2 separate regions of the Homo sapiens genome follow, and region 1 is linked to region 2. The links come from fine-mapping of genetic effects on gene expression. A gene starts in region 2. The other region holds a variant in brackets. All regions are shown on one strand. Distances are between the middles of the regions.

The links. PIP is the estimated chance that this variant, and not a neighbour inherited with it, causes the effect. A credible set is the group of variants that fine-mapping cannot tell apart.
Region 1: its variant is the best candidate, but not a certain one, in a credible set for the expression of LINC00511 in blood mononuclear cells (TOPMed, PIP 0.78).

What each region holds. Positions count from the first base shown.
Region 1 is chr17:72,610,741-72,625,777 of GRCh38, reverse strand. LINC00511 (long intergenic non-protein coding RNA 511) reads left to right here. Exons shown (of 5, transcript NR_033876.1): 3 at 7,214-7,462. Among named protein-coding and RNA genes, the nearest start is that of LINC00511, 22 kb to the left of the region's middle. The variant G/A (reference allele first, on the strand shown) is at 7,330.
Region 2 is chr17:72,632,187-72,647,223 of GRCh38, reverse strand. LINC00511 (long intergenic non-protein coding RNA 511) reads left to right here and starts at 6,752. Exons shown (of 5, transcript NR_033876.1): 1 at 6,752-6,853; 2 at 8,374-8,477. LOC105371887 (a long non-coding RNA gene) reads right to left here and starts at 6,549. Exons shown (of 4, transcript XR_934961.3): 1 at 6,506-6,549; 2 at 6,131-6,301; 3 at 4,395-4,596; 4 at 2,759-3,523. It overlaps SLC39A11 (solute carrier family 39 member 11), which reads left to right. Exons shown (of 10, transcript NM_139177.4): 10 at 1-1,275. LOC107985005 (a long non-coding RNA gene) reads right to left here. Exons shown (of 3, transcript XR_001752991.2): 2 at 12,521-12,662; 3 at 11,544-12,013.

The DNA of each region.
Region 1 (15,037 bases), 21 kb after region 2:
CATGATTGCAAGTTTCCTGAGGCCTCCCCAGCCCTGCAGAACTGTGAATCAGTTAAACCTATTCCTTTATAAATTACCCAGTCTTGGGTATATCCTTATAGCAGCATGAGAATGGACTAATACAATGTCCCTATCTGTGGTGGGTTGGATAGTGTCCTCCACCAAAATCCATGTCCACCTGGAACCTCAGAATGTGACCTTATAGAATCTTTTCAGAGGTAGTTAAGGATTGAGATGAGATCATATGGGATTAGAGTGAGCTTCAGTGATTGTGTCCTTATAAGAGACAGAGAAGGACACACAACGACAGGGAGGAAAAGGCCATATGAAGACAGAAGCAGAGATTGGAATGATGTTGTCCCAAGCCAGGGAATACCAGTGTATTCATCTGTTCTTACGCTGCTAATAAATTGGGTAATTTATAAAGGAAAGAAGAGACTGGGTAATTTATAAAGGAAAGAAGTTCAATCAACTGAATCAACTCACAGTTCCACATGTCTAGGGAGTCCTCACAGTTATGGCAGAAGGTGAATGAGGAGCAAAGTCACGTCTTACATGGCAGCAGCAGGAGAGCAAGTGCAGGGGAACTCCCCTTTATAAAACCATCAGATCTCATGAGACATGTTCACTATCACAAGACCAGCACAGAAAAAACCTGTTCATGTGATTCAGTTACCTCCCACTTGGTCCCTCCCACAGCACGTGGGAATTATGGGAGCTATAATTCAAGATGAGATTTGAGTGGGGACAAAGCCAAACCATATCAGCCAGGAAGCACCAGGAGCTGGAAGAGGCAAGGAAATTTCTCTCCTAGAGGCTTTGGAGGGAGTATGGCCCCACTGACACCTTGGTTTTAAACTTCTAGCCTCCAGAACTCTGAGATAATAAGATCCTCTTGCTTTAAGCCACCAGAGGGTGGTAATTTGTTAGGACAGCCCTAGAAAATGAATGCACTGTCCAATGCTGGAAGAAGAGGGGAGGCTAGTACCAGCTGCATGCCTTCTTTTTCTCACAAAAGCCTAAGGTTTCCTAGAAGCATCTGAGCTGACTTCCTATAGCATCCAACTGGTCAGAAAGATGTAATATGGCCTGGGAAGTCTGGAAAAACAAAAGTAGAATTTAGTTTTTCCAAATGTGGCAGTTCTGAGTTTCAATAACACTCTATCTGCTCCAGTTGTAAAAAGGACCAGGACACACCAAGAAGTCAGCTTATTGTTCCCAAAGGCAGGAGATAAGGGAAGGTCTTCCTCATCTCTGCCTTTCCCTTCTTTTCCGACGACTTCCTTTCTTCTTATTTTCCCCTCCCTCTCCAGCTGCCTCCAACTGTATGTGACTCAAAGGATGCCATGAATAGTAAAAAGGCAATATGCAATGAACTCACCCAGTAGATAGTCTGTGCTCAATAAATTATGCAAGGAGGATGCTCAGAAAGCTAAGATTAGATATAAAAAAAGAAAGTTGAGAAAGCCTTTCTGAATGCTGAGGGAAATGCATGCAGCCTTAGATATGTTTAAGAATGGAAAAAAACAGCCGTGTGTCTCACCTTAGCAAGTGCTGCTGTCCTGGAGGCTGGGTCAGGATTTGGATCAATACTTCTCACACTTGAATGAAAAATCACTCATAGAGCTTACCAAATGCAGATTTCTGGATTCCAACTCCCCATCCCCGCTCACCAGGTGGTTCCAGGGCTCAGCCTAGGACTCTGCATGTTTAACAAGCCCCCTCGTGGAGTCTAAAGCAGGTGGTCCATCCACTGCCCATTTGCAATCGGGCTCCTGAGATTCGTTCCAGCCCCGAGATTCTGAAATTCTGCAAGAGCTGCCTGAATTGATTTCCAGATACTTTTGGAAATAAACAGCATATGGCTTTCTGGCTTTTGGGAAGCGACTTTTGCATAGCAGGCCTGCAGTCTCCCAAGAAGTTTCCATCAAGAGAACTCCCTTGTGTTTTCAGACTGCCTTGGGGCCAGGGGGCATACAAGGAAGGGCAGAGCGTTGCTTGGTTGTGGCAGAACAGACGGGAAGAATCATCTGTTCTTATAGGTCCCATAAGCCCCCAAGGGCGTGCACACAGACTCACAGACACCTGCTGGAACAAAGGGACAGGAGGCTCCTGCAAGGGCACCTGGACCTGCTTTCTGAGCACATGGCTCTAAGGAAGTGGGGGAATGATGCAGGTTAGAAACAGGGTTGGGGCGTTGTCACCTTTTAACACTCCAGCAGGGAAGGTTTTTCTGCCTTCTCTGTCAAGACCTGAAAAATGTTATACTGTTGAGTGAATTCTTCCATCTTTCCCACCACGCTTCAGATACATCTTCCCCCCTCACTGTGACCACTGCTGAAACTTTCTTTTACATAAATAAGACACTACAGAGAAAGCACATAGAAAGCGCTGGATATGCAATGGTCACTCTCCATTGTCCCATGCTGCCCGGACACCCCTCTCGGAGACCTTGCTCTCACAGGTCCTCCTCCCAGCCTGTTCCGCGCTGCTCCTCTCACCCACCCTCTCCCCACTGCCATTCCCAGCTCGGCAGGGTCTGGCCCTGTTTTATTGCCAGCCCATTTCCCGGCTACACAAAGGGGGCCTTTGTAACAGCTCCTTCCAGATGTTGAGTATTTGGAAAACATTCCGATCAGAAGGTGCTTGTCCTCTAGATGCCCTCGGAAAAGGAAAGAATCTGGGACAGGGATTTGGGAGTGGCGGTCCCAGGTCTCAGAGTGGGGCTTCCCTGAGGGAACTGGGGGAAAACTCGGGTGCTTTAGAGCATCGTTACTACCATCCTCATCAGTTTCATCCCAGTCAATTCACTCACCACTTAACCGATGTTCGGGCAGAGACTCCACACCTCACCCCCTCCTCTGCGGATGCCTGCGTTCCTTCCAGGTGACTGATGTGGTTGCATTCCTGCCTGATTTGATCCTCCTGTACAAGGCAAGAATTGTGATTCACACTCAAGCAAGACCGTAGCTTTGAGATGATGGGTGACTTTTAAATAGCAAATCAGGACTGGAACCTGGTGTTCTGATGCCAAATCCAATACTCTTCCATTACAACATACCTCCTCTTTGTGGAATTTCTTTGAGAAAAAACTACCAAGCCACTCTTTTGGGGTTCACCTGCAAGATGGCCAGATAGCCTACTATGACACCTCCTTTCTCTAGGGAACTCCAAGGCTCCGTTTCCCAGTGATTCTTGGAAAGTCAGGCAGGTCATCCATAAACAGAGAAATGGAGGCCCAGGGAGGTTGAACAGCTTGCCCTGGGCCACACAGTGAGTGAGTTAGAGCCCAGTTCAGGATTGGAATCCAACTCTAGAGGGTCAGATCTCATGGGCCATTTCCCAAAGCTTAAGTCATGGGAGATGGGAGAGGCTTAGTGCTGAGGTTCAGCCATTCTCAGCCAAGCCCAGCCCAAGCCCAGGCAGCATCCTCCTCCCTGGCTCTCAGGGCCTCCTCCTGGTTACGGGTTAGCCCCTCTGTTTCCTGTGTCTACCCTTTGTTTCAGGCTGGCCCCAGTATTCCATATACCTCATTGGCAGATGTCCCCCTTAACTTCTCTGGGACTTGGTTTCTCCCTTTACAGAGAGAAACTCATTCCCCTTTATAGAGGTTTGTTGAAATCCATAAAAAATGACAGCTAGATAGGAGGAATATATTCTAGTCTTCTATAGCACTGTAGAATGTCTATAGTTAACAGTAATATATAGTTTCAAATAGCTGGAAGGATAGTGAATGTTCCTGACAGAAAGAAATGATCACTGTTTGAGATGATGGATACACTAATTACCCTGATCTGATCACTATACATTATATGTGTGGAAACATCACCATGGACCCCAGGAATATGTACAATTATTATTTGCCAATTAAAACATTTTGTTTTAGGCTGGGCATGGTGGCTCATGCCTATAATCCCAGCACTTTGGGAGGTCAAGGTGGGTAGATCACTTGAGTCCAGGAATTTGAGACCAGCCTGGGCAACATAGCAAAACTCCATCTCTACTAAAAATACAAAAGATTAGCCAGGCATGGTAGCACACACCTGGAGTCCCAGCTACTCAGGAGGCTGAAGTGGGAGGATCACTGGAGGCCAAGAGGTAGAGGTTGCAAGTGAGCCAAGATCATGCCACTGCCCTCCAGCCTGGGTAACAGAGCAAGACCCAGTCTCAAAACAAGATAAATTGTTTTAATACAAAAAAAATAAAGACCAGGGAGACCTCAAATGAGAAGGACTTTGGAGGCAACAGGCATGAGAAACATATGATAGGAGAGAGCTGCTTCAATAGGGTCAGGTTTGAATATTGGCTACTCCACCTACTGTCTCTACAGCCACTGAAAAGTTGCTTTTCTCTTCTGCAGAGTGGGGCTAGTCATAATGATGATATCTGGCTGGCAGCCATTGGGAGGATCTCCTTTAGTACTCAAAATAGGGAAGATAAACCATCCCTATTTGCCCAGGTTTGAGAGGTTTCTTGGGATATGAGACTTTCAGTACTAAATCCAACAAAGTCCCAAGCAAATAGGGATGAATTGGTCACTTTGCCTTAAAACAACCCATGTTTTTGATGGGTCAACTATGAATGAGAATTTACAGTGGGGCTATGATAGCTTGGTTTATTTTTTGGTTTTATACACACACACACACACACACACACACACACACACACACACACACACACACCCTTTCCTGCTATCCTTGCACCGTGGTGTTGGCCTTGGCCGTGTGATGTGCTTTGGCTGATGGAATGTTAGCAACCACACCAGGAGTACTAGCTGCCAGGTACTTGTGCACTTTGGCTTGGTTTGGGCTCCTGTGGTCACCTGAAGAAGTGTGTGTCCCAGGTTACAACAGGCCCTTCAGTCTTGGCTTGAGAAAAAACATGAGTCGACTAGGGCCCGAATGTGCTAGACTGTGTTAATCACCTCCCTGCGCTGCCCCCCACCAACCAAGGAATCACACGGACCTCAATTCATGGCCCTTTGCAGTGTGACGTTGCCACTTGTGTCATCAAGAGCGGGAGTCTATTTCTCTACCATCCCACACCTGGGGGCTGCCTTGTGGCTTGCTTTGGCCAATAGAATGTGGCAGAAGCAAAGGGTGTGGGTTCTGGAGCCTAACCCTTGAGAGATCTTGCATGTTGGACTCCCACCCTTTTGGAACCCTGGGTCCACCATATTGTGAGGAAGTCTGTTTAGCTTGCTTGAGAAGAAGCCACGTGGAAGAGAATGGAAGAGCCCCAGTGGGTAACCAGCACCAAACTGCTGCACAGGTGAGGTTGTCTTGGACCCTACCCACATGAGCGAACCCAGGCAAGATCAGCAGATCAGCCCAGGCAACCCAAAGAATCATGAGAAAGAAATCGTAATTGTTGTTTAAGGTACTAAGTTTTGGGGTAGTTATACAGCAGTAGATAATGGATACCAACCCATGGCTTGGGATCCAAGCTCCGTCAATAGGCATACTCAAGCTAAGCTGCACATTGAGTCCATTGTAGATCACAGAACCACAGTCAGCCTTGCAGGACTGCAAATGCAGGATGAAATATCCCTTGTTTTAAGCCACTGAGTGTTCCAGTCATTTGTTTGCAACAGTCTTGTGTCAACAGCTGATTGACACGAGGGATTCAACCCTAGGAACGCCTGACTCCAAAGCCTGTTCTTAGCCTCATCACAATACCGTGCTGTTGTCCCTTAGGCCATGAAACATCTAAGACATATTGATCTCAGTTCCCAACTATTAATACATTCCCAGGCTGTTCAGAAGTGCCCAGAAACCCTTTGTCAAACATGGGTGCCATCATTGTAGAGCCTTCCAGATTGTTAGAAAAAGAAAGGAGTGGGGATTATGTGCTGAAAGAGATGGACAAGGAGCTATTTTGTAAACTCTATAACATTTGGCAAAGAATATATCCTTAAATACAAATTAAAATAGCTTAGGTCATACCTAGGAGTGCCGAGGCAGAGAGAGAACACTGGAGGAGCAGGGAGGAAAATATAGAAAAACATGTTCGTGACTTCAGGGTAGGGAAGTTGCAGACTCCATATAACATAAATATATTTTTATGAAGTTCAGAAATAAAGCTAAGCATGTTATTTGGGGACATGTACATATGTATTAAAACCACAGTGAAAATAAAGGGAGTAATAAAATTCAGCGTGTTTGTTGTTCTGGGGAGAAGAGAGAAGGGCAACTGAGGCCGGGTGTGGTGGCTCACAGCTGTAATCCCAGCACTGAGGTCAGGAGTTTGAGACCAGCCTGGCCCATCTGTACTAAAAAATAAAAAGATTAGCCAGGCATGGTGGCACGCACCTGTAGTCTCAGCTACTCGGGAGGCTAAGGCAGGAGAATTGCTTGAACCTGGGAGGCGGAGGTTGCAGTGCACCAAGATCGTGCCACTGCACTCCAGCCTGGGCAACAAAGCGAGACTCCATCTCAAAAAAAAAAAAGAAGAAGAAGAAGAAGGGCAACCTGAAGGACTGCATAAAGAAAGTCAGAGTGGCCAGGTGCAGTGGCTTGTGCCTATAATCACAGTACTTTGGGAGGCCGAGGCGAGAGGATCATGAGGTCAGGAGATTGAGACCATCCTGGCTAACATGGTGAAACCCCATCTCTACTAAAAATACAAAAAAATTGGCCGGGCGTGGTGGCAGGCGCCTGTAGTCCCAGGTACTCGGGAAGCTGAGGCAGGAGAATGGCGTGAACCCGGGAGGTGGAACTTGCAGTCAGCTGAGATCGCGCCACTGCACTCCAGCCTGGGTTACTGAGCAAGACTCCGTCTCAAAAAAAAAAAGAAAAAGAAAGTCAGAGTGAGGCATGGATCATCTTCTAGATCTTCAGTTGGGTGGTAGAGTCCAGGTTTTCATTTTACCATTTTATATAAGGGTAGCATCCTCATGGGTGGGGTATACTGTGATGCTTAGGTGTGTGGACGCTGAGTCTGAATCCTAGTTTGCCACTCATTAGAGTCTTACACATGCAACTTAACCTCTCAGTGCCTCAGTTTCCTCATCTGTAAAACAGGTGTTGATGGCAACAGTACCTACCTCGTAGAGTTATTAGGAGGAAGTGCTTGAAACCGAGCCTGTGAGTTACATGTTATTAAATATATAGCCACCATTATACAATAAAATTGATTGAGTCGGGAGAGGAGACTCATCTGTGCTCCTTCATTAACTCAACACTGATTATGTATCTGCTCTCATCGGGCATAGGTGCTCACATGCCAGGAGAAATAAGCTGGTGATTTATGTGGCACAGCACCATCGATCGACCTACAAAGGAAGCTTCAGTGCAGCCGTGTTGCTATACAGACCTCTCTCACCAAGGC[G/A]TCATGAACTGAAGGGCTGGGAGAGGCCTCGTGGAGGAGGAAGAGTTTCGCTCAGCTGCTTGGGTGTGGGACTGAATGTGGTTCCAGAACTGGTCGCTGCCTTCACCCGCTGACTCTGGTCTCGGCGATGACAGTGAGTTCCTTCTTGGCGCCTTCAATGGGAGGGATTGTCGTGCACTTGGGGAGGAGTTGGCTGTGGAGTTCAATCATTAATTTGCCACAATTAAACCAGAGACTTCTGTCTCCAGCAGCAGATAAGCAAGCAGAGAGCTAACAACGAGGAAGGGCGGGGCGGTCTGACAAACCGGTTGTGAAGGGCAGGCTAGGCTGATTGAGAGCTGATAGGGGACTGTCATTGCTTTATTGTGGCAATAACGCCGTCAGGCATCTGGGGAATTAGGAGGGAAAGCCTCAGCTGGCATTGGCTGCAGGCACAAAGGGGGAAAACCCCAGCCAGACTTTTTCAGTCTGCTGGGCCACCAGAAAATGTTTTGGGGTCCCCGAGGTACGTGTGAGGCTGAGAGTTGGTGATCAGCTCCCCCGGTTCCTTCCTGGCTGGGCTACATGAACCGGGGACAGCTGGAGTGTTGAGTTTTGACATTCCCAAAGACAAGCAGCTAAAGTCAAGAGGACTGTGTCACACAGAGATGGTGATCAGGGGAATGGAGTCCCTCGGAGGCAGGGAAGGAGGCAGGCAGCCTTAGGTTAGACTCCAGGAAGAACTGTCTCCTGAAGCAGTGATAATTGGAACAGGCAACATCTGTGTGCTTGCTCTGTGCCCAGTGCTAGGTGCTTTCCATGAATTCACTAATTCCTGAAACCCACAGGTAGGTCCTTTTATTGCCCCTCTACAGAGACGAGAAAAACTGGGTCTTGCTGAAATTAAACATCTTGCCCAAGGTAACGTAGCTCCGAAGTAGCAGAGACAGGAATTGAAATTGCAGAGCTTCCTCTCGAAGCCTCTAGATGCTAGCCTACGTCTTCAAAGATGCCCATCAATCAGAGATGTAGGACAGTCTTATCTCTGGAATCTTCCTTGGTCTTCTTGTTCTGGCATTGATCAGCTGGTGTGTCATACACACACACACAGGCACACACGTACACACACACATTATATATATGCATACATGCCATGCATACACATCACATACAGGTACAAGCACACGCATATGCACAAACATTGCACATCACACACATCTACACACACATTACATACATGCACATGCACATCACATACACGCACACACTACAGATATAATCCCTCCCCAACTCCTCCACAGCCCCCCACCACAAACCTTTAAGGTACTGACATGACTGTAACAGAGTCATTGACCCTCAGTGGATTCTCCACCCCTGGACAACTGTGGAAAGACCAGTGGCATTCCTGGGAGTACTTTGACGGTTGTACAGGGCCCAGCAACTCTTGGCTGCCACAGCCCCCTGAAAAACAATGGCCTTGAAGTTGTCCACCCTCACTGCGCTGGGCTACACTCATTGGGTCATGCTTCATTTTTGCAGAAGGCCCTTCTGTGAGTACTTTAAATTCCTGAAAAAGCTCATTACATTTTGCCATGGTCCTGAGATGGTGACTGGGGACTGTCCCTGCTCTCATTGACTTGACTGAATTGAGGTCCAGATTAAGCCATAAAACAAAACCCAAAATGCAACCTCCCAAGCCCCCAACATGCCAAGACTGGCAGAAATTCTGAGACCAGGTAAAAGATGCTGCGCCCCCTCAAGTCTGTTCAATGATCAGGCGGGGACTAGGGAATGCTGGTTTGACTGGTGGGCTCCTCCCCTGCCTTCTCTGTTGGGGGTCGTGTTTGCTTTGTGTTCTTGGCCACAGGGTTAGCAGGAAGGAGATCACCAATGCATCGTTGCATGTGCTGTTCTTTGATTTTTCTCCATTCTTCACCCTGGAAGAAGGAGTGAATTTATGGACCTGTTATGGACTGACAGATGCCCTCTGCAGAATTAGAGGCAGCCTGGGATGGAGGTTGGGTTCTGAGACTTACATCTTGAGCAGGATTTCTCAGTCTCAGCACTGTGACATTTGAGGCTGGATCATTCTTTATTATTATTATTATTTTGAGACAGAGTCTTGCTCTGTTTCCCAGGCTGGAGTGCAATGGCTGGATCATGGCTCACTGCGACCTCCACCTCCTGGGTTCAAGCGATTCTCCTGTCTCCACCTCCCGAGTACCCGGGATTACAGGCGCCTGGCACCACACCCGGCTAATTTTGTAATTTTAGTAGAGATGGGGTTTCACCATGTTGATCAGGCGGGTCTTGAACTCCTGACTTCAGGTGATCCAGGTGATCCACCCATCTCGGCCTCCCAAAGTGCTGGGATTACAGGCATGAGCCACCACACCCGGCCTGGATCATTCTTTATTACAGGGTTTTGTCCTGTGCCTTGTAGCGTGGTGAGTAGCATCCTGGCCTCTACCAACTAAATGCCAGTACCACCCTGGCTTCCCAGTTGTGACCATGAAAAACCTCTCCAGACGTTGCCCAGTGTCTCCAGAGTAGGGGGAGGGGCAAAAGTGTGTGGGTTGAGGAGCACTCATAGAGACGACTTCAAAGTTTTGGAGCACGACTGACTTCCTGCCAACAGTCACTCTGCCCCTCAGTCCCTTTGCTTCTCTCTCCATCCTTGCCCTTCCCATCTGTTCAATGGGCACTTCGATGGCCATGAACTAAACCATTTACTCTGTGAGTCAGGAGGAAAGCAAAACCCCAGCCACATCTCACGCTGGAGAAACAGGACTTTCTTTCCTTTCCCCTCAAAGTTCTAGTTTTCCGCAAGGTCCCCAGATGGCCAGCTGAGAGCCTCTCGTCCACTCTGCAGGCGGGGACAAGCAAGCAACACAAACACCCTCTGTCCTTCCTCCAAAGGGAGAAAAGAGTTTTCCTCCCTCCCTCCATCCTTCCCCTCCCCTTTCAGAAACTCTTGGGTTGTGTTCACCGCCACCCCCGCCCCCGCAACCCGGCCCCACTCAGTCCGCTTACACTGCCGACCCCTCCCCAGCCATTCCCCGTTCACTTCCCTCCCCTTCCCCTGGTACACCTGACTTATTTATTTATTTATGGCTGGAGTATTTGAGCTCAGGGTTAGTTCGAGTCTATTAAGTTTGCTCCTTTTCCTGCCTGGGAACCCGGGTAATGAGTAACCATAGCGTGCTTTGGGCAGCTGTCTCCGACAAACCGAGAGACGCCGTGGGAGCCGCATAAGGGAGCGTTTGTTCTGTGCCTTCTCAATAGTTCCTTGTGCAGGAGGCAGGGTGATGGGAGGGAGGGAGGGAGAAGGGAAGAAAGAGACAGACACTAAATCACTGCACTTTTGACAATTCCTCTCTTCTCTCCCACCACCCATCCTCCCCCACCTACACCGATCAGATCTTTGTGGTGGACTTAAGACTTTAAGACTTTTGTTGCTGTTTCCATGAGCCTGGGGAGAGGCTCCTGTGTACCTCGTGGGGGTACTTTTGGGTGAGTTGCAGACTATATGGGGCCTGAGGGCTGATTTTTAACATGGGGATGGTTTAGGTGTCCTGGATCTCTCCCACTGTGTGTGTAAATTAACACAATGCCTATTGTTCCCTAGTTCATTTAATGATCCAATAAATCTCTAGGTATCTATTCCCAACCTTGTGGCCTAGATATGCTATAAAGCTGTTTGAAAAGTGCTTTCATAAAGCAGTCCAAGTGTATTACGGGATTAGTCATATGCCCCACAATCAACATGGGACTCGTTAGGGCCTTCCTTGATTTGTATCATTATGTAGACAAGAGAGACAGGCCAAGAAATATATTGTACATACGGCTTTTGGAAAATATCCTAAGTGATAGCCACATTCATTCATTCACTGCATGGGGATTTAGCATCCACTATGTGCCAGCTGTTTGGCTAGGTCTCAGGGGCAACTACGGAAATGAACAGGGCATGACTCTGGCTCTCAAATTTGCAATGGGGTAAGGAAAATAAGAAAGAACCCATGTCCCCGAATTACGGTAATATAAGTTAAGCTGGAATATGTGCCATAAGAAAGGTACAAGCAGAATATCTAGAGAGAGGGGAGGAGGGAAGATGAAAATATTTTGGGAGCATGAAAGAAAGCTTGGCTTCAGGAGAAAAAGATGAAGGGCAGCCCCTCCTCCAGGCAAAGGAAAGGTTTTAGCCAAGAAATGAAGGCAGGCAAGCATGGGGCATATTTGGGGAACAAGGAAGGGCTGGGTTGGTTGAGACATGGGCAGATGAATCACCATCCATGCTGTGTTTTAGACAGATTAATCAGGCTGTGGTGTGTAGGGTACATTTAAAGGGGAAGAGATTAGAGATGACAGTTAGAAGTAGATGCCACCGGTCTAGTTGGAAGAAAATGAGAAAAGACAGGATGGGTAAGATGGTGGAGTGTAGGATTGTGGAGGGAGGGGGTAGCAACTGACCACATGTCGAAGAGGGCACAGTGGAGGTAGCCCTGAGGCTTTAAGCCTGGGTGGCCAGGAAGAGAAATCTGGAAAAATAGCATGACACATCATCAGGAGGTCCAAGAATGGTTCAGAACTGAGTAGCAGGATCAGTGGTCTGGTTTGGATGTGCTAGATCTGAGAGGCACCGAGGGACAGATGTCTGAAAGCCAAGTGGCAACAGAGGTCTAGAGCTGGGGGGGATGTCAGGGGCGCTGTCTCTCCCTAGCATCCCCCTCTAACGCTGGCACGAGAGTGGAAACTCACCCTTGAAACGTGAGCTGGATCTCCTTCCTTTGCCCATCCAGATCTTGTCTCCATTTCACCCCTGATCTGTGCCCCAAGAGCTGCCCTTGTAGGGATTGCATCAGCAGGCTCCCTTGGCCACTGGATTCCAGCTGAGTTCAGCAAGTGGAGCGAATAGCAGAAGATTAGAGGGTGGAAGGAAAGTAGCCTCAGTTTCTGGCAGGCTGTCCTTTCTCCGCAGCTGCTGTCTCTGGGTTCTGGAAACATTCTGCTCTCCTTGCCCCGTCTGACTTCAGAGGGTGGGGGTCATGCCTTCCCACCACTGCTGGCCCCATGAACCTGCACTCTCCCTTGTTGGTTCCTTGAACTCTGCCCATCCCATAATACATCATCTCTGTCTTAAGCTCTTTTCAGTCCCCCAAAGTGGTTGTGCTGTTTGTATCCTGTTAGGACCCTGATTCATCCAAAAACTGGAGTCAAAAGTCACACAGGGCCGGGCACGGTGGCTCACGCCTGTAATCCCAGCCCTTTGGGAGGCCAAGGTAGGCAGATCACTTGAGGTCAGGAGTTCGAGACCAGCCTGGCCAACATGTTGAAACCTCAGCTCTACTAAAAATACACAAATTAGCTGGACGTGGTGGTGCATGCCTGTAGTCCCAGCTACTCAGGAGGCTGAGGCAGGAGAGTTGCTTCATCCTGGGAGGTGGAGGTTGCAGTTAGCCCAATCACGCCACTGCACTCCAGCCTGGGCAACAGAGTAAGACTCTGTCTCCAAAAAAAAAGACACACAGAACAAATCCTTTTTCTCTTCTTTTATGCATGGTATTTCTGCTCAAACAGAGGCCTTATAATAATGGAATGGACAAATAATTATTACAATTGAGAAAAGTTTCATCAACTGAAGCAGTTTGCAAATTTTCTAGGTTTCTTCTATCATTCAGATTATTAATGTACCAGTTGTTGATCTCTTTCTCTTTAACATTTCTGGAGTTTTCTCTGTCATCCTTTGTCGGCTTCTGACTTCCCCAGGGGACTTCACATCTTTCTTTTAGTGCTGAGGTGAGTTGCTCCAACTGAAGCTCCTCTTTTTGAGCGGCTTCCACCTTCGTTCCTCTGGCAGTGCAGAAGCAGGCCGTTTGCCCTGGTGAGCTACCTCCAATTGAACCATCATCATCTGAGCATCAGAGAATTCTGAGCAGGAAAATTGAGACTTGTTCCAATTTATTGAGACTTCTTCCAAAACTTAGGAAAATGTTTAGCCGGAAGATAGTCTGTAAGTATCTGTCTGTTTTAAAATACAGGCATGCACACCATGCCATGATAGCTTTCCCGTCTCAGTAGTTGCTGTGACTGTCTTTGTGTTTTGTTTTGTTTTGTTTTGTTTTGTTTTGAGACAGAGTCTTGCTCAGTTGCCCAGGCTGGAGTGCAGTGGCGTGATCTCGGCTCACTGCAAGCTCCGCCTCCCAGGTTCACGCCATTCTCCTGCCTCAGCCTCCTGAGTAGCTGGGACTACAGGGACCCGCTACCATGCCCAGCTAATTTTTTTTTTTTTATTTTTAGTAGAGATGGGGTTTCACCATGTTAGCCAGGATGGTCTCGATCTCCCGACCTCATGATCCACCCGCCTCAGCCTCCCAAAGTGCTGGGATTACAGGCGTGAGCCACCGCGCCCGGTCATGTTTTGTTTTTTGAGACTGAGTTTCACACTTGTCGGCCAGGCTGGAGTGCAATGGGGTGATCTCAGCTCGCTGCAACCTCTGCCTCCTGGGTTCAAGCAATTCTCCTGCCTCAGCCTCCCAAGTAGCTGGGATTACAGTCACCTGCCACCATGCCCAGTTATTTTTGTATTTTTAGTAGAGACAGGGTTTCACTATGTTGGCCAGTCTGACCTCAGGTGATCCACCTGCCTCGGCCTCCCAAAGTGCTGGGATTACAGGCGTGGGCCACTGTGCCCGGCCAGCTGTGACTGTCTTTATCATGACCTCTTAATGCATGGATTGGGAGCTGCAAGGAGTAGATCCCCAAGTGGGACTAGCATGGATCCCAAGGTATTTATTGGAAGGATTATGTCAAAACAAAGCAACAACAACAATCAAGAAAGAATGAAATATCAACCGGAAGGACAGAAAGAATATAGTCCATCTTCTGGGCATGTGTGGAATGAGTTTTCTCTGCACGGAGCTTTCTTCTCTCTCTTTACAGATCTGCTTTCTTCATTTGGGAGGAAACATGAGCACCCTCTTGCCCTTGACTTTTACATCTTGCAGCTTTCACTGAGGGCGAGCTTCCCTTATTCGGTTCTAGTCAGCCAAATCTCAAGGCAGGACTCTGATTGGATTAGCTAAAGTCAGATGCCCATCCTTGGACCCGTCAACTGTAGCCAAGGGGAGGAAGAAGGCCATGCACCAACAGAGCTGCTCCTGCCAGAACCGTGGGACGAGGTGGGAAGCGTTGTTCTCAAAGGAGGAGCGGGTACCAGGCGGAATAATTTGCATTATAGGTATTCTAAAGCAGCAATTAGTTTTAGAAACAAACTTATCACATAAAGAGACTCTCAGCTCAACAAACACTATTTGATATATTCACAATTTAATAGAAGCTCTCAGTTCAATAAACAAATATATGAACTGAGTAACTGCAGTGTTGATGTAGGAACAAATCATTATTTTCTGATTGTTGATGGACATGATAAGCAGAGTCTACTACTGAGATGGGAAAGCCATCATGGCACAGTGTGCATGCCTGTATTTTAAAACAGACTGACACAGACTATCTTCCAGCTAAACATTTTCTTAAGTTTTGGAAGAAGTCTCAGTATACTGGAAAAGGTCCAATTCTCCTGCTCAGAATTCTCTTCTGTACAGTGCTGGGTGCATAGTATACATCAGAGAAATCTGCTTCTAAAGGTGATAAATAATAGGTGTGTTAAATTAGTAAATTATATTATCTACTGGAAGTTGATAAGTGCTACTGAAAAAGAAAAGGAAAGCAG
Region 2 (15,037 bases):
GACGTCTCCTAAGCATTTTGGTGGCCTAGTGACTCAGGGCAGAGTGGCCAGCACACCTCTCATCCGCCCCTCCTGCTCCATCACTGCTGAGCCTCTCCCCATCTAGAATGTTGGAACTGGAGCATCATAAAGATAGCAAGCTACCTTCCAAGGCCGAGCCAGCCCAGAGAGGAGCATGTCTTCCTTTACCTCCCCCTAAGGAGATACTACATGGGAGGGGGACACAGAAAAAGGGAAGGAAATTGGCTAGTCTGGCTTTTTTTTTTTTTTTTTTTAAAGGCAAAGATTGACATTATTGAAGGAAAGGGGATGAGGACAACTGTGAACTCACAGTGAGCCCTGTGGAAAGAAGAGACAGACAGAGTGTGGGTTTGTTCGGAGGCCTCTGCTGTCAATGGATTCCAGGAGCAAGGCCATTTGTCGCGCTTTCCAAATTTCTTAGGCATTTATTTTGATAAGTTTATAGCCATCATGTTTCTAAGAGACTTGGAGACACCAGCAAACTGCTAGAACTCAAACTCTTCAATTACTCAAAGAAGGAGCCATTTCAGTTAACTCAAGTGAATGAAAGAGTTTTGGAATCTGCTGTGGGTCCTTCCCTGTTGACCATTTGGTAACTTATAATCTGACAAAAACTCTTGAGCTGCAACAGGCCTTGCCAGAGGGCTCAGGATGGGAAAGGAAGAAGGGGATAGGAAAAGAAGAGGTAATTTTACATTTCCCCTTTAAAGTAAATTTTAGCCAACTCATCATTCTGAAATGTCCCTATAAAGAATGAGTCGAACTAGACCAGAAGCCAGCCTACTCCTTCTTACATAGCTTCTCCAACAGGGGTAGCAATGACCTGTCCACTTCAAACACAGATAAGGCCTGCCATCCTCATTGGTTAAAGGCACACGTGAGACTTTCAGTGGGCTCTGCTGAGAAGGAAGGCAGCCCAGGAGTCAGGTATGCAGGCATTGCATTGTCAGTGTCTGCTCTCAGAGTTTACACATTCAATTGCTTCCAAGGGTGAATCTCCTGCTCTGTGAATGCTATCAGACCCCAAAGGCCAACCTTGGGCTGGGTCTATGTACGTTCTTCCGAAGCACTGATGATCAAAATTGAAGACACATTCAGAGGTTTGATTGGTTGAGATTAACTGGTGTGGTGGTTGGTGTATGTATGTTTTATTTTTATGTCTTTGTATGTAGTTCTACATAATGCAAATTGTGCTTTCTGATGGACAAGACCTCATAACTGTGATTAATATCAATAAAAAGGGGATGTTGTGGATGACCTGTGTTACGTTCAGTACTTCTCAAAGCTGCTTCTTTGCAAGGATGATCATAAAAGAGCTAACTAAAGTTGGAACTAACACCTCCCTGATCCAACACTAGGAGAGGCAAAGGAAAGAGCTCAGATGGGAAGGGCTAGTCAGATTCTTGGTTGCAACAACAGCATCCAACAGCAGCTTACTTAAACAGAAAAGGAAATGAGTGGAAGCCTGTTAGGGAATTCACAGGCTCTTTCGGAGAATCGGGCTTGAAAATGGGTTGGATCCAAGAAAGCCAGAGGTCTGGGGCCATGACCCAATCACACCTGGAGAACAGCTTGGTTTAGATGCCATGGTCCCCAGAGCTGGTCCCTAGATCCTGGACACCACTAATGAAACTGCTGTACCTTGATGCCACCACCACTGCCGCCACAAGAACAAACTCTACACTGAGCTGGATTCTTTGTGTCCTGGCTCCACATTCGAAGTTCTAGATCAGAACATCCAGCTGCCAGAGCTTAGATCCTGTGCCCATGAACTAGCTGATCTTGCCCCTTCCCAAGACTCGCAAAATAGTGGATTTTCCAAATTTGGGAATGAGTTCATATGGTGCAGAGCCAAAATAGAAAAAAAAAAAAGGGTCTATTAAGTTCATTACAGCCTTACTCTTTTGCTGTTCAATATCAACATATACTCTAATTCCTCTAGTTTTACTTAAAGAAAAAACTCTTGCTTAAAATATGTAGCTATTCCTCATACAATCAAAACTTCTTTCATTCCCTTTCCAACGGGGTTACCCCAATGTCTTTCAACTCCTGTACTCAAGGTCTGTGAGTAATGGATACCCCACCTCCGTGGGATAACAAGCCCATCTCATTATTCTGTATCTTTGAGCTGAAGTGTAAAGTTAACCATAACCGTTCATCCCATATACAATAAAACGAATAACGGGAGAGGAAAGAGAGGCAATGAGTTAAAATAGGATACACACAACACAGGAAGTACAAGTAGAAGCTACAGCACCCATTTCCTGCCCTAGAGAAGAGACCCTGGATGATGTTTAGGTTTCCCGCTTCCAGTTTCCATTCCAAGTCCATGCTGTCTTCAGCCAGTACCTTAGATGACTGGGGTGTGACCTACTAGCCGTGACCCTATTCCTCTTTCCTAAGGGCACAGAGACCAAGGAGGCCCTGCCCATATGCATGATGGTAACAGTCTTCCCTTAACTCCCACCGCTGGAGGAGGAGGAGGAGGCGGCTCCTGAGAGAACCACTTGAGTTTCATTCATAGCCTCCACCCTGGCCTGTCTCCCGTGGTATAGCAGCATTTTCCCAGGACTAGTCACTGCAGCCAGCCTTGTCAACCCACTTTTTTGACCTAATGGCATGTGAAATTCCAGGTGGCCAGCCCACATGTCCAGACTATTGCTATATCACTCTTTTTCTGTTCAACATCTATATTCACTCTAATTCCCCAAATTTCACCTTTTTAAAAAATGTCTGCTTTAATGGAACCATCACTCATACAAACACTTTATATCCCCTTTCCAAAGGGAGCCACCCCAACGGTCAGCTGCCTCAATGGTGCAACCTTCCTTTCCTGGGAATAAAATCGCTAATTGGTGGAAAAAAAGTTGAAGAGAGTGAGAGTCATTAAGTAAGATGGAAGTTGCACCGTGCCTACTTCCCCTTCCTCCAGACCTGTTTAGTCTGGCTGTGGGAGAAACGGCACCACGTGATGTTCCCTAGTTCAGAACAAACAAGCATCTTAAAGGACGATATTTCAATCTCCTTAGGTATGATCGTCTCTCAGTCCTGAAATGAAATCTTCAATAAATCATGTCACAGCTGAATACAGATGACTGCTTCTGGGTGACAGGATCCATTGACAAGGGTATCACCCACTGCTTTCCCTCTTTCACTGTAAAGTGAATTCCGTTGTCAGAAGCAATTTTGTAGAGCATGCCATGATGATCTACAGGCAGAGAGGTCAGTTCCAAAGTCAGACATGAGCCTGTTTCAGTGAAAAGAAATCACTGCCCTTTCCATAATGGAAGAGGTCCAAAGTCATCAGTCTGCAACTAAGTAGTCCATGGTGTCCCTGGAGTCTGGTCAGTTGCGGCATTCAGGGGTGGTCACTGATAACCCTGTGCACCCAGGGGCCAGGTCTGCATTGATAATGGAAAGCCTAAGTGATTGAATCCATCACAGTTCATGTGTTGCCAGCAAAGACTCTTCTGCTCATGAATCAGTTGAAGCAATGATGTGCCTGGAGAAAGAAATCATTACACATAAGCAGATGGCCTGGTTCAATTAATTATTATTAGCTTTTGCTATAGTGGGTATTTTGGATGATGTTTTACTCAAGAAACAAACATTTTCAAATTTGGCCCATTCTGAGAAGTGAAGCCATGTATGTCTTCCCACACCTCTCCTCTGTCATTAAACCTCCAGTCATTCTTCTTTCAAGTTTGTGACCTGTTGAACAGAACCCCCCATCTACACTGCTCAGAAGTTGGTGTAGCTTCTTGCATCAAATTTTCTTTGCTTCCAAGCAAAGTGGACACAGAGTTATGTGCTTCAAATTCTCCTCCCCAGGAGGTTCTCCCTCTCACCTGCTATCCTCACTGAACTATAACATCACAGTCACCTATTTAGAAGGTAGGGCCGGGTGCAGTGGCTCACGCCTATGATCCCAGCACTTAGGGAGGCCGAAGTGGGCGGATCATGAGGCCAGAAGATAAAGACCATCCTGGCTAACACAGTGAAACCCCGTCTCAACTAAAAATACCAAAAATTAGCTGGGCGTGGTGGCACCCACCTGCATTCCCAACTACTCGGGAGGCTGAGGCAGGAGAACTGCTGGAACCCGGGAGGCAGGGGTTGCAGGGAGCTGAGATCGCACCACTGAACTCCAGCCTGGGCGACAGAACGAGACTTCGTCTCAAAAAAAAAAAAAAAAAGGTAGGCAAGCATATGGTGTGAAGCTATCTGTAAATGAGGATCAGTGGTTTTTCCTCTCTTAGTCACTAGCTCTTGGGAAACCCCTTTGAGGCCGGTGTTAGATTGATGAAAGGGTCAGGGGTAGGCACACAGGGAATGATCTACCTATGCATATAATGCACTTGTGCCTTCAGTACCTGGTTAGGAGCTAGTCCCACATAAACCATTTCCAGTTGGTAATGGGATTTTATGAGTGTGTCAGATGGCCCAGTACATGACGGACAGCTTGGGTTGCAAATGACATGTAATACATTAGGGATAATCACTTGGCGTCCAGTGGTCAGTCCAGCTCAGAAGTCACTCCCAGCTTCTCCTGCTAGCACAGTCAATCCAGAATCTCTGCAATGTATATCAACAACATCAGACCAGTGTAAAATGATACCTTTCCACCCATTTATTAAGCACCCTTAGTTAGGAAAATCCCAAAATCATGTTGGTTTCTAATCTTGATCCTCGCTGGTTTGAGCTTGCCATTGTCCTTCTTTCTGAAGTGCTGGGATCTAACTGTCCATTCTGGAGACAGTCGAGGGTAATGCATGAGAACTGGCTTGCTCTTGCAGTGAGACTGCAAAGGATGCAAAGAAATGGCAGTGTCGTTACGAAGTGTGTCAGAAGACTGGAGAAGAGGGTTTCCGCTGACGAAGGAGGCTCTTTGAGGACTGGGTGATTCAGAGAACTTCAGGTTTTCCAAATCCTCTCATTTGTCTCCATTTGGATTCTCTGGGTCTTATCCCTTCCTGATCAATGCTTCAGCAAGGCCATGATTTTACCAGTGTAGAAATGTGGCCAGTCCTGTGGATCAAATTTTACCTTTGGTTTTCCCTTTTTGTTGTTGTTTTTTCTTTTTGAGACAGAGGCTCGCTCTGTCACCCAGGCTGGAGTGCAGTGGCACGATCTCAGCTCACTGCAACCTCCGCCTCCCGGGTCAAGCAATTCTCATGCCTCAGCCTCCCGAGTAGCTGGGACTACAGGCATGCGCCACCATGCCCGGCTAATTTTTGTATTTTTGTAGAGACGGGCTTTCACCATGTTGGCCAGGCTGGTCTCAAACTCCTGACCTCAGGTGATCTGCCTGCCTCTGCCTACCAAAGTGCCAGAATTACAGGCACGAGCCACGGTGACTGGCCGTTCTATTTTCTCAGTTGTATGGACTCAAGAGGGAAGAGGGTATTTCAGAACTGTCATAGGAAGCCCTTGGTTTGGTTTAAGTCTCTTCCTTCAGCTGGTAACTTCGGGACTTGAGCTTGCCAGTGTCTTTTTTTAAGCTGTGTGGCATGGCTTAACAGGACTGCCTGGCCGGCGCATCTGTAATCCCAGCACGTTGGGAGGCCGAGGCGGGCGGATCACGATGTCAGTGGATCGAGACCATCCTGGCCAACATGGTGAAACCCCGTCTCTACTAAAAATACAAAAATTAGCCGGCGTGGTGGCGTGCATCTGTAATCCCAGCTACTCGGGAGGCTGAGGCAGGAGAATCACTTTAACCCGGGAGGTGGAGGTTGCAGTGAGCCGAGATCACGCCACTGTACTCCAGCCTGGCGACAGAGTGAGACTCTGTCACAAAAAAAACAGGACTGCCTATTGGGCCTCATATGCTTGACTGTTTGATGGCAGAAACAACTCATTGGCTACAGGCTTTGCTTTGAATGGACCCTTCTTCCAGGTGACCGGTATGATGAGAAGTAGAGAGGTAGGGGCAGGTGTCAGCGTCTGGATCTTCTCTGGGATCCCAACAGAAGACATTTTCGTCCTGCTGTGCTGAAGACGGGACCGGAAGGCCATTGCTCAGGTATTCACTCTACCAGACGGGGCTTTACGCTCCCACCACTTCCTCGAATCCCCCGTGAGGTAGATATTATTATCCTGACTTTACCTGTGAGGACAGGAACGCAGTGGCGGGGTGGGTTCTCACTGTGCGTGGAGGCAGCAGGACGCAGAAATCGACCTCCCCCACGCGCCTCGCCAGCAGCTTTCAGTTTCGTGGCCCAACGCCCTGCACTGCACGCCTCTCCTCTGGGATAATTGATAGTTGAATCTGTGTAAGCTGGAAGCAAATGAGAGCCCAGCGGCTGTTCTTTCCCATTCCTTTTAGATTGAGGCAAAGGGACAAATCTGCGATGTGAATAATACAGCTCCAGGAATTTTTATCAGCGCGCCCCACGCCCGGCCCTGCCTGAGGGTCTTTCTAAGCCACAGGCGTCCCTTCCCAGGTCTTGTCTCTTCCCTTCCGCGAATGCCCTCGGCTCACCCAGCAGGCAGGTGTGATCCGGCTCCGCGCTGGGGCCAGGTGAGGCCGGGCTGCCTGCCCCGGTGCACGTTCCCAGGGCGCGGCGCCCAGTCGGCGGGGCCTGCGGGCTGGGCCTCCCCGGGGCGCCGGGCGTGGCGCCGGGGGCAGGTCCCCGGGCTGCCCTGCAGGGCGGCCGGCCGGCGGCCAGCGGCTGTTTACCTGTGCAGGGCGAGGCGAGACTCGTGGCGGTGCCGGGGCTTTGCACGCAAGGGGCGATGCGCCCCGGAGGGGGAGGGACGCAAGGGGCGACTACTGTTACCTCGCTTGGAGATACCAAGGCCGGTCGGACCCCCCGCTGGCCGAATGTGGGTAGGCTGCCCCCAGTTTGTCCCTTCCCAGGGTGGATCCAGATTTGGGGGCCGGAAGTGTATACAACGTGGGGAGCGCCCTTTGGGAAAAATAATACAGAAGTCCCAGTACAAGCTTAGGTGCAGGGCTTTTTTGGAAGGGGGCCTGTGAGTGAGGGTCCCCGAAGCCCAGGCTTCCTTGGCTTTTAGGTAACCTCACCTCTGAATCAGGGCAGGGAAGCCTGAGGTGCTCGGGGGTTTAGAGGCTTTCCAGACACTGCAGGAACCCTATTTAGTTAATTCACTTTTCCTTCATCTTCCACACACCCCAGCCCAGCACCTGGGAGAAGGGATGGCGCTGTGTTCAGAGGCAGGAGGAACCCAGCCCACAATTGTGCTTCTCTCTCCTGCCCTGGGAAGAACTAAACCCATCTTCCTCCTCCTTCCAGTAGAATGCGGGAGGCTGGGCCTGGCCATCCAGGGCTGAGCAAAACAGTAACCCTGAACCTACCTCTGGATTCTCTCCCGCTCTCTGACCTTCTAGCTCTCAACCCAGTGAAAGTGTCTGGACTCTGCCAGTGGCTTAATAGGGAAAGCGTCCTGGGGAGCCACCGTCTGTCCCCAGGGACTGTCACTGACCCCTCAGAGGTCCCCGATGGGGCTTCTGATGGAGCTGCTCGGACCCCAGACCTTCAAGAATCCTCAGGGTACGAGGCTACTGCCCTCTGCCCCAAGACAGGGAAGATGTGTGTGGGTGGAAGAGCTGGAAGTGTCAGAGGCATGTGAACCAGAACAACTCCATCTTAAATAGGAGCTGGGTAAAATGAGGCTGAAACTTACTGGACTGCCTATCCAGGCAGTTAAGGCATTCTAAGTCACAGGATGAGATAGGAGGTCAGCACAAAAATATGGGTCATAAAGACCTTGCTGATAAAACAGGTTGCAGTAAAGGAGCTGGCCAAAACCCACCAAAACTAAAATGGTCACGAGAGTGACCTCTGGTCATCCTCACTGCTACACTCCCACCAGCACCATGACAGTTTACAAATGCCACTGCAATGTCAGGAAGTTACCCTATATGGTCTAGAAAGGAGAGGCATGAATAATCCACCCCTTGTTTAGCATATCTTCAAGAAATAACCATAAAAATAGGCAACCAGCAGCCCTTGGGGCTGCTCTGTCTACAGAGTAGCCATTCTTTTATTCCTTTACTTTCTTAATAACCTTGCTTTCACTTTGCACTTTGGACTCACCTTGAATTCTTGCGGGAGATCCAAGAACCCTCTCTTGGGGACTGGATCAGGACCCTTTTCCTGTAACAGAAGAGCAACTGCTTTGTGTGGCCCAAGGAAAGATGTGTGATTCTTTGTAGAGGGTGAACCTATGGACCTGTATCCCAGCATCCCCACAGCCCGTGATCCTCCCCCAGATTAAAAGATCAGCTTGGAAATCATGCGGGGTCTTTTCTGATATAGTCTCCATTCTCTGGTGCACTATGAGCCACAATGATACATTTCTCATTGGCCTCCCTCCTCCTGGCAGGGAGCGAGCAGATCCAGCCTGTTTGGACGTGGTGAGGACCCAGCCGTGGGGTTTAAGGCCAAGTTAGCCTCTCCCTTCACTGATTACAAGAGCCATTGTTACAGGTGAGTCTTTGTCCTTAAAGCTCCCAAGATGGTGGCGAGCCGCTCCCATGATGGGGCAGGCAGCTCCCGAGATGGCGGCAAGCCTTTTGTTCTCCGACCTGAGGTTCTTGGCGTCACCGATTCCAAGGAATGGAACGTTGGGCCATGCGGTGAGTGTTATAGCTCTATTAGAAGCCGTGGGTCATGGAAGAGAACCATGGAACCCAGTGACTAGTGTTCAGCTCGATTAGGACGAACCCGGACACTTAGCCACGCAGGAACAGTGGTAAGCCTCTAGCCCGAACGGGAGTGGCAATGGGCGCCTCACTGGATCAGGAGCACAGCGGACACCCTGCTGGATCTGGAGGGGTGGAAGTCAGCAGTGGGTCTACGACAGTGGCAAACAGCAGTGGTGGACGGCGAGTGAAAGCTCAACTCGAGCCGTAACAAACACAGACCAGAAGAGTGTGCAGTTGCAAGATTTAATAGCATGAAAACAGAGCTCCCATACAAGGGAGGGGACCCAAAGGGGGTTGCCTCTCCCTGCTCGAATGCCTGGGTTTATATCCCTATCATCGTCCCTCCCCCGGTGCTCTCAGGCAATATATGATTTGAGTATTTCTTTACCTCCTGCTTTTAGCCTAATTTGTATTTTAGTGAGCCCTCTTTACTACCTGATTGGTCGGGTGTGAGCTGAGTTACAAGCCCCATGTTTAAAGGTGGGTGCGGTCACCTTCCCCAGCTAGGTTTAGGAATTCTTAGTCGGCCTAGGAAGTCCAGCTAGTCCTGTCTCTCACCATGACCTCCAAGAAGCCCAGGATGCATCAGGGAAAAGTGGAAACGTGGGGCAAGCCTGGGGAGCACGCAAAGAGGGGAGGCCCTTAGCCAAAGCTTGGGTTCCACTTTGTAGTTGTGCAGGAAGGAGGTCAGAGGTGTACCCTTTCTCTGACCTTTGCCTTTTAGGGTCGGGTTCAATGTGCACTTGGGTTTGCAGACTGCATTGGTCACCACCATGCCCTGGAGTGTGTCCCATGGAAAACAACAATGAACTGATTTAAGATTAGTAAAATTTAAATCTTTTCAAAGTTTGTCTTCAATTAGAACCAGCTCCCTTTCTGCTGTTTCAATGAAAATGCTTACTGAACTTATTATGTGAAAGTATAGAAATGTAAATTTTTGGCCAGGAGTGGTGGCTCACGCCTATAATCACAGCACTTTGGAAGGCCAAGGTGGGTGGATCTCATGAGGTCAGAAGCTCCTGATCAGCCTGGCCAACATGGTGAAACCCCATCTCTACTAAAAACACAAAAAATCAGCCGGGTGTGGTGTTGCGCACCTGTAGTCCCAGCTACTTGGGAGGCTAGAGTGAGAGGCAGGAGAATCACTTGAACCTGGGAGGCAGAGGTTGCAGTGAGCCAAGATTACACCAGAGTACCCCAGCCTGGGCAACACAGTGAGACTGTCTCAAAAAAAAAAAATGTAATTTTTTTCAGTTCCTAACAAGCCTGTAACACGGTTAAAAAACAAAGGACTGCACTTGAATAGATGATGTATGAGTCTGTACATTTCTTCCATGTGAACATTTATCATATTTGGTAAGTTGGTGGGAGACGGTCGTTGTATTCATTTTCTATTTGTGTGTGACAAACTACCACGAATCTAGCAGATTAAAACAACACGTGATTATTTCAGTTTCTCTCGGTTAGAAATCTGGACACAGTTTTAACTGGGCGTCTGTTCAGGGTCTCACAAGCTGCAATCAAGGGGTTGGCCTAACTATAGTCTCCTCCAGGGGCTCAAGTGGGGAGGAATCTGCTCCCAAACTCACTCCCATTGCTGGCAGTATTCAGTTCTGGCAGGTATGGGTTTAGGGACCCTGCTTCTTGCTGGCTGTGAGCTAGAGGCTTCCTTCAGCTCCTAGGGACATGGGTTTTTCCCAGCATGGCTGCTTACTGATCAAACCAGCAAGGAGAGCCCCTCGACTGAGTCAGCTAGTAAGTGAGGGTCTTATGTAATATAGCATAAGCATGGCCATGACATCCCATCACCTCTGCCATGGTCTATTGGCTCATAAACCCAGGTGGCAAGAATGGCTTCCATAGGTTCGTGGGCCTCTTTTTCATCCACCAGGATAAGCATGACACAGCAAACTACATGTGGCGATGATATGATTTTATTCTCTCTTTTGCATATTCTACACTTCAGAGTGGTACAATGAATGGATGAAAGAGATGTGTGAGCAGGGAAGGTACTGGAATCAAGGATACCCATCTGGACGGATGGGCTGTTCTGGATGAGCCCTGGGAATCCTGGCCTTCTTGCCCTCTTCTCCCTTGCGGGGTTACCACGGACCCATCTCCCAGAACTCTGGGTCAGGGCTGCGGCCAACTCTTGGTTTCTTCAAGGGCTTGAGGAACGGCATCCACATGTCCACTCTGTGTGCCCCTTTCTCTCCCACCCTGTCTGCTCTCATCAGCACAGTGGGGCTGGGCACAAAGAAGCTTCAGATTCAAGTTACCGTTTCCACATCGATACCCACTGGGAGGTGGCAGAGATGACTTCATTTTGGTCACCACCTTTATTTTGGTCCAGGAACTTTTTACAAATCAACTCCCCACAGGACCTATTCTGTGACAATGGCTATGAAAGCCTCAGTCATTGCTTGTTCTTTGCAAGAAAAAAATGGGACGGAAAGGGAATAGGAGACTTGGGGGAGACGATAACCAAAAGCCAGGATCCCACTACGATATCTACAAGAGGATATGGACCTACATGTCCCCCAAGGCTTTCAAATCTAAATATATACATAAATATTGATATACACATTTGAATATACATGTGTATAATTTATATATACATTAAAATATACTTTATGTATTAAAATATATGTATAATTATATATTTTAATATATAATTACATATTATATAATATATAATATGTATTATATGTTATATTAAAATATAAAATATATTAAAAATACATAAATATGTATGTAGTGAATAACATATATACACACACATACTACATAATCAAAACTTATAATAAAACAACAACAACAATCTTCTAAGTCAAAATTAAGCCTTAGTTTTCTTGCTTTGGGACCCAAACTTTACTAATAAGGGAGATATTGACAGAATAGATTTTTAAGTCCTCTGGCGGAGATTAAAATGGATCGTGCCCTGGAAACTAGCAAGGTTCACGAACCCCTGCCATCCGCCTTCCTGAGCTGTTTCCTTCCCCAGTGGGTTATGCCTGCTTGGGAGGAGGGGTGATGTAGGCGTGTGTGTTTGTTTAGTGTAGAATTCTTGGCAAACCTATCATGCTGGCAGGTGCTGAAAAGTAAAATCCTCTTTTTCCAATCCAGAAAAACTCCGATGCCAGCATGCCCGTTTCCCATCATCTTCCTCACAGCTCCACCAGGCAAAGAGCCATCTCTCTTAGTCCTCGGGAAACAGTGGTGGTATCTGGCTGAGTGATAGCGCTCGCAAGGTTAAAGGGAGGGTCAGGTTTGGGTGTTTTCCTCTGTGGGCTCTGTCACTGAAGATTCATTTCCCAACTGCAAAAGACAAGAATGAAAACGGGCAGATGGTTCGGCCTCCTTCTGAGGCTCAGGGTTGGGGTAGAAGAGGTGGGCTGAGGAAGCAGGAGGGAGGGGAGGTAGCGGGCATGCAGCTTGGCATCCTGGGCATCCCTATGGTGGTGTTGCTGCCACGTGCCTGGATGGACAAGCAGCATGGCGCTGGGAAAAGGCAAGATTCCTCAGGGGATCATCCTCAGAATTAGAGGCACTCAATGTGCATCTGTATAAGAGATGACAATGCCGATAGCATGGCAGATTATGATCAGCCTTGGCAGGGAGCTGCAGGCAGGGCTTTGTGGTTTGGAAAGCTGCAGCAAACAGGTAGGGCACAAGGCGCCCTCAGAAACACACCCTTCTCTTCCCAGGGCTGCCACCACCACCCACACCCAGCTTCCTCCCACCGTGAGCTCAGCTTCCATTTCCTGCCTCCTTTGACTGGTCAGGGAGGCTGGTGCCACCCATTTTGGGCCCTGAGAATATTACCCGTAACACGTGGTGCCCAGCTTTTTGCGGGCCCACTGATTTCCTGTGTTGCCCACGGCCCATTGATTGGTCAGCATCATTATCCACTTAGATTTTCTTGGCAGGTGTAGAAAGGAATTGAGCCAGCCCCGGGTGTTCGATGCTGAAATCAATTGAGAAGTAGGTTACAATCTTGCCAATCAGAAGGAAAGAGCATCTCTGCAGATGGATGTGTCTGTTACAATTCAGGTTCTGAACTGGTGGTTTTGATATTACATCTCTAATCTTAATCTCAACCAACACAACCTGCTAAGAACCAAACTAGCCAGAGGAAAAGATTAAGTAGATAACATTAGCTTGAACAATGCACCAGCTAAAAATGGAATTACGGCTCTCTCAAATAACATACAAAAGTAATAAAAATATCCTTGAGGTTTTTGGGGATGCTTTACCTTAGGGTACCAGGTGATTAAAAGAGATTGTTGCCAGCCATTATACCTGACCAGTTTGTCCTTTTATTTCTATTTTTTATTTTTTTGAGGCAGAGTCTTGCTTTGTCACCCAGGCTGGAGTGCAATGGTGTGATTTTTGGCTCATCACAACCTCAGCCTCCTGGGTTCAAGCGATTCTCCTGCCTCAGCCTCCCAAGTAGGTGAGACTACAGGTGTGCACCACCACACCTGGCTAATTTTTGTGTTTTTAGTAGAGACAGGGTTTTGCCGTGTTGGCCAGGCTGGTCTCAAACTCCTGACCTCAGGTAATACACCCACCTCAGCCCCCCAAAGTGCTGGGATTACAGGCAAGAGACACCACGGCCGCCAGGCCCAGTCTGTCCTTTTAAAACATACCTACTGCCCTGATCAAACTGTATCCCGTTTCAGGATAGTCAGCCTCCCATCTGATCACTAATTTTGTTAGACATAAGTCTGATACTACAGCAGATATATTTTGAGAGTAAATGTCACTAGGTTTTGCTCTGGAATCCTACCAAAAACGGTGAGTGCCAGCCTGGGCAACAGAGTGAGACCCCATCTCAAAAACAAGAACCAAAAACCAGTGAATGGTTTATTGTCTGACACCCACAGGAGCTCCCTCACCTTCTTACTGTCTGGTTACAAAAAGCAAAACCAAATCTGTTTTAGCCACTACAATTTCAAAGCAAGGCCAGATCTGATCATTTGCATGCATAAGTTTGTACACTCACTGATTTATTCTTTATGCTGTCTTGATCTTTAAACTGTGTTTTTGTTCAACCTTATATTATGGAGAATTTCAAACCTATGCTCAAACAAACAGAATGGTGTCATGAACCCTCATGTCCCCATCACACAGTCCAACAACCATCAACCCTTGGCCAGTCCTGCCCTATTCACTTCCCTCCTCCTCCTTGTTATTAAAAACAAACAGGCTGGATGCGGTGGCTCACAGCTGTAATCTCAGCACTTTGGGAGGCCGAGGTGGGCAGATCAGTTGATGTCAGGAGCTCGAAACCAGCCTGGCCAACATGGCGAAACCCCATCTCTACTAAAAATACAAAAATTAGCCGGGCGTGGTGGCACAGGCCTGTAATCCCAGCTACTCAGGAGGCTGAGGTAGGAGAATCGCTTGAACCTGGGAGGCAGAGGTTACAGTGAGTCAAGATCGTGCCACTGTACTCCAGCCTGGGTGACAGACTGAGACTCCGTCCCCCAAAAAATTAAAAAAAATATATAAAAAAACAAACAGACATCTTGTCATTTTATTCATAAACAGGTCAGTATGTATCTTGAGAAGGAATGGCATTCTTTTTTACATGACTCCAATACCATTATCACACCAAAAGAAGTGATACTATATAATTTACTATATAACTATAATTTACTGTATAAATTTACTATAATTTACTCTATAACTATAATTTATAGAATTTATATATTGCATATATTTTATTGCTTTCCTTTAAGTTAAACAGTGACCTTTGCCCAAAAACAACAAAATCTTACTTGATATTATTTGGCTCAAATATTTTGTATTTCTAAGGGAACGTTTGCTTTTCTGAAAACTCATTCACTAGCTCATTTCATGCCCATAATTAGGCTTGTAGGGAAGCCTAGGGAATGAGACCGAGGGACCATGGCTGAATCAGCACTAATTGTAGCTCTGAACTTGCCTTGCCCCGGTAGCGAAGGCAGATGGTGCCAGTGACCCCTCCCCAGGGGACTGCAGACTTTGAACACACACTCGTCTTCTGTCCCCTCCCTCTGTGTCGAGTGCCAAGGTCAGTCTAGGTGTCTGCAGAGGAACGGTTGTTTGCCCAAGGAAGACGCTTGTGATATTCCTGGCCTGGTGACTGGCAGTCACGTGGTGGGAGGGTGGAGGCAGGGAGGAGGTGACCGAACAGAATAGGACAGCCCAGAGTGGTTTGCAGGATGCATCAAGAAGTGCACACAATAACCTTGGCAGCATCCATGGAGGCCGCTTCCAGGTTCTTTTTGGTCACAAAATCCCCTTGCTTCTGTAAAGCCTGCCACCTTGCTGGCTACGAAGGAGGGGCGACCC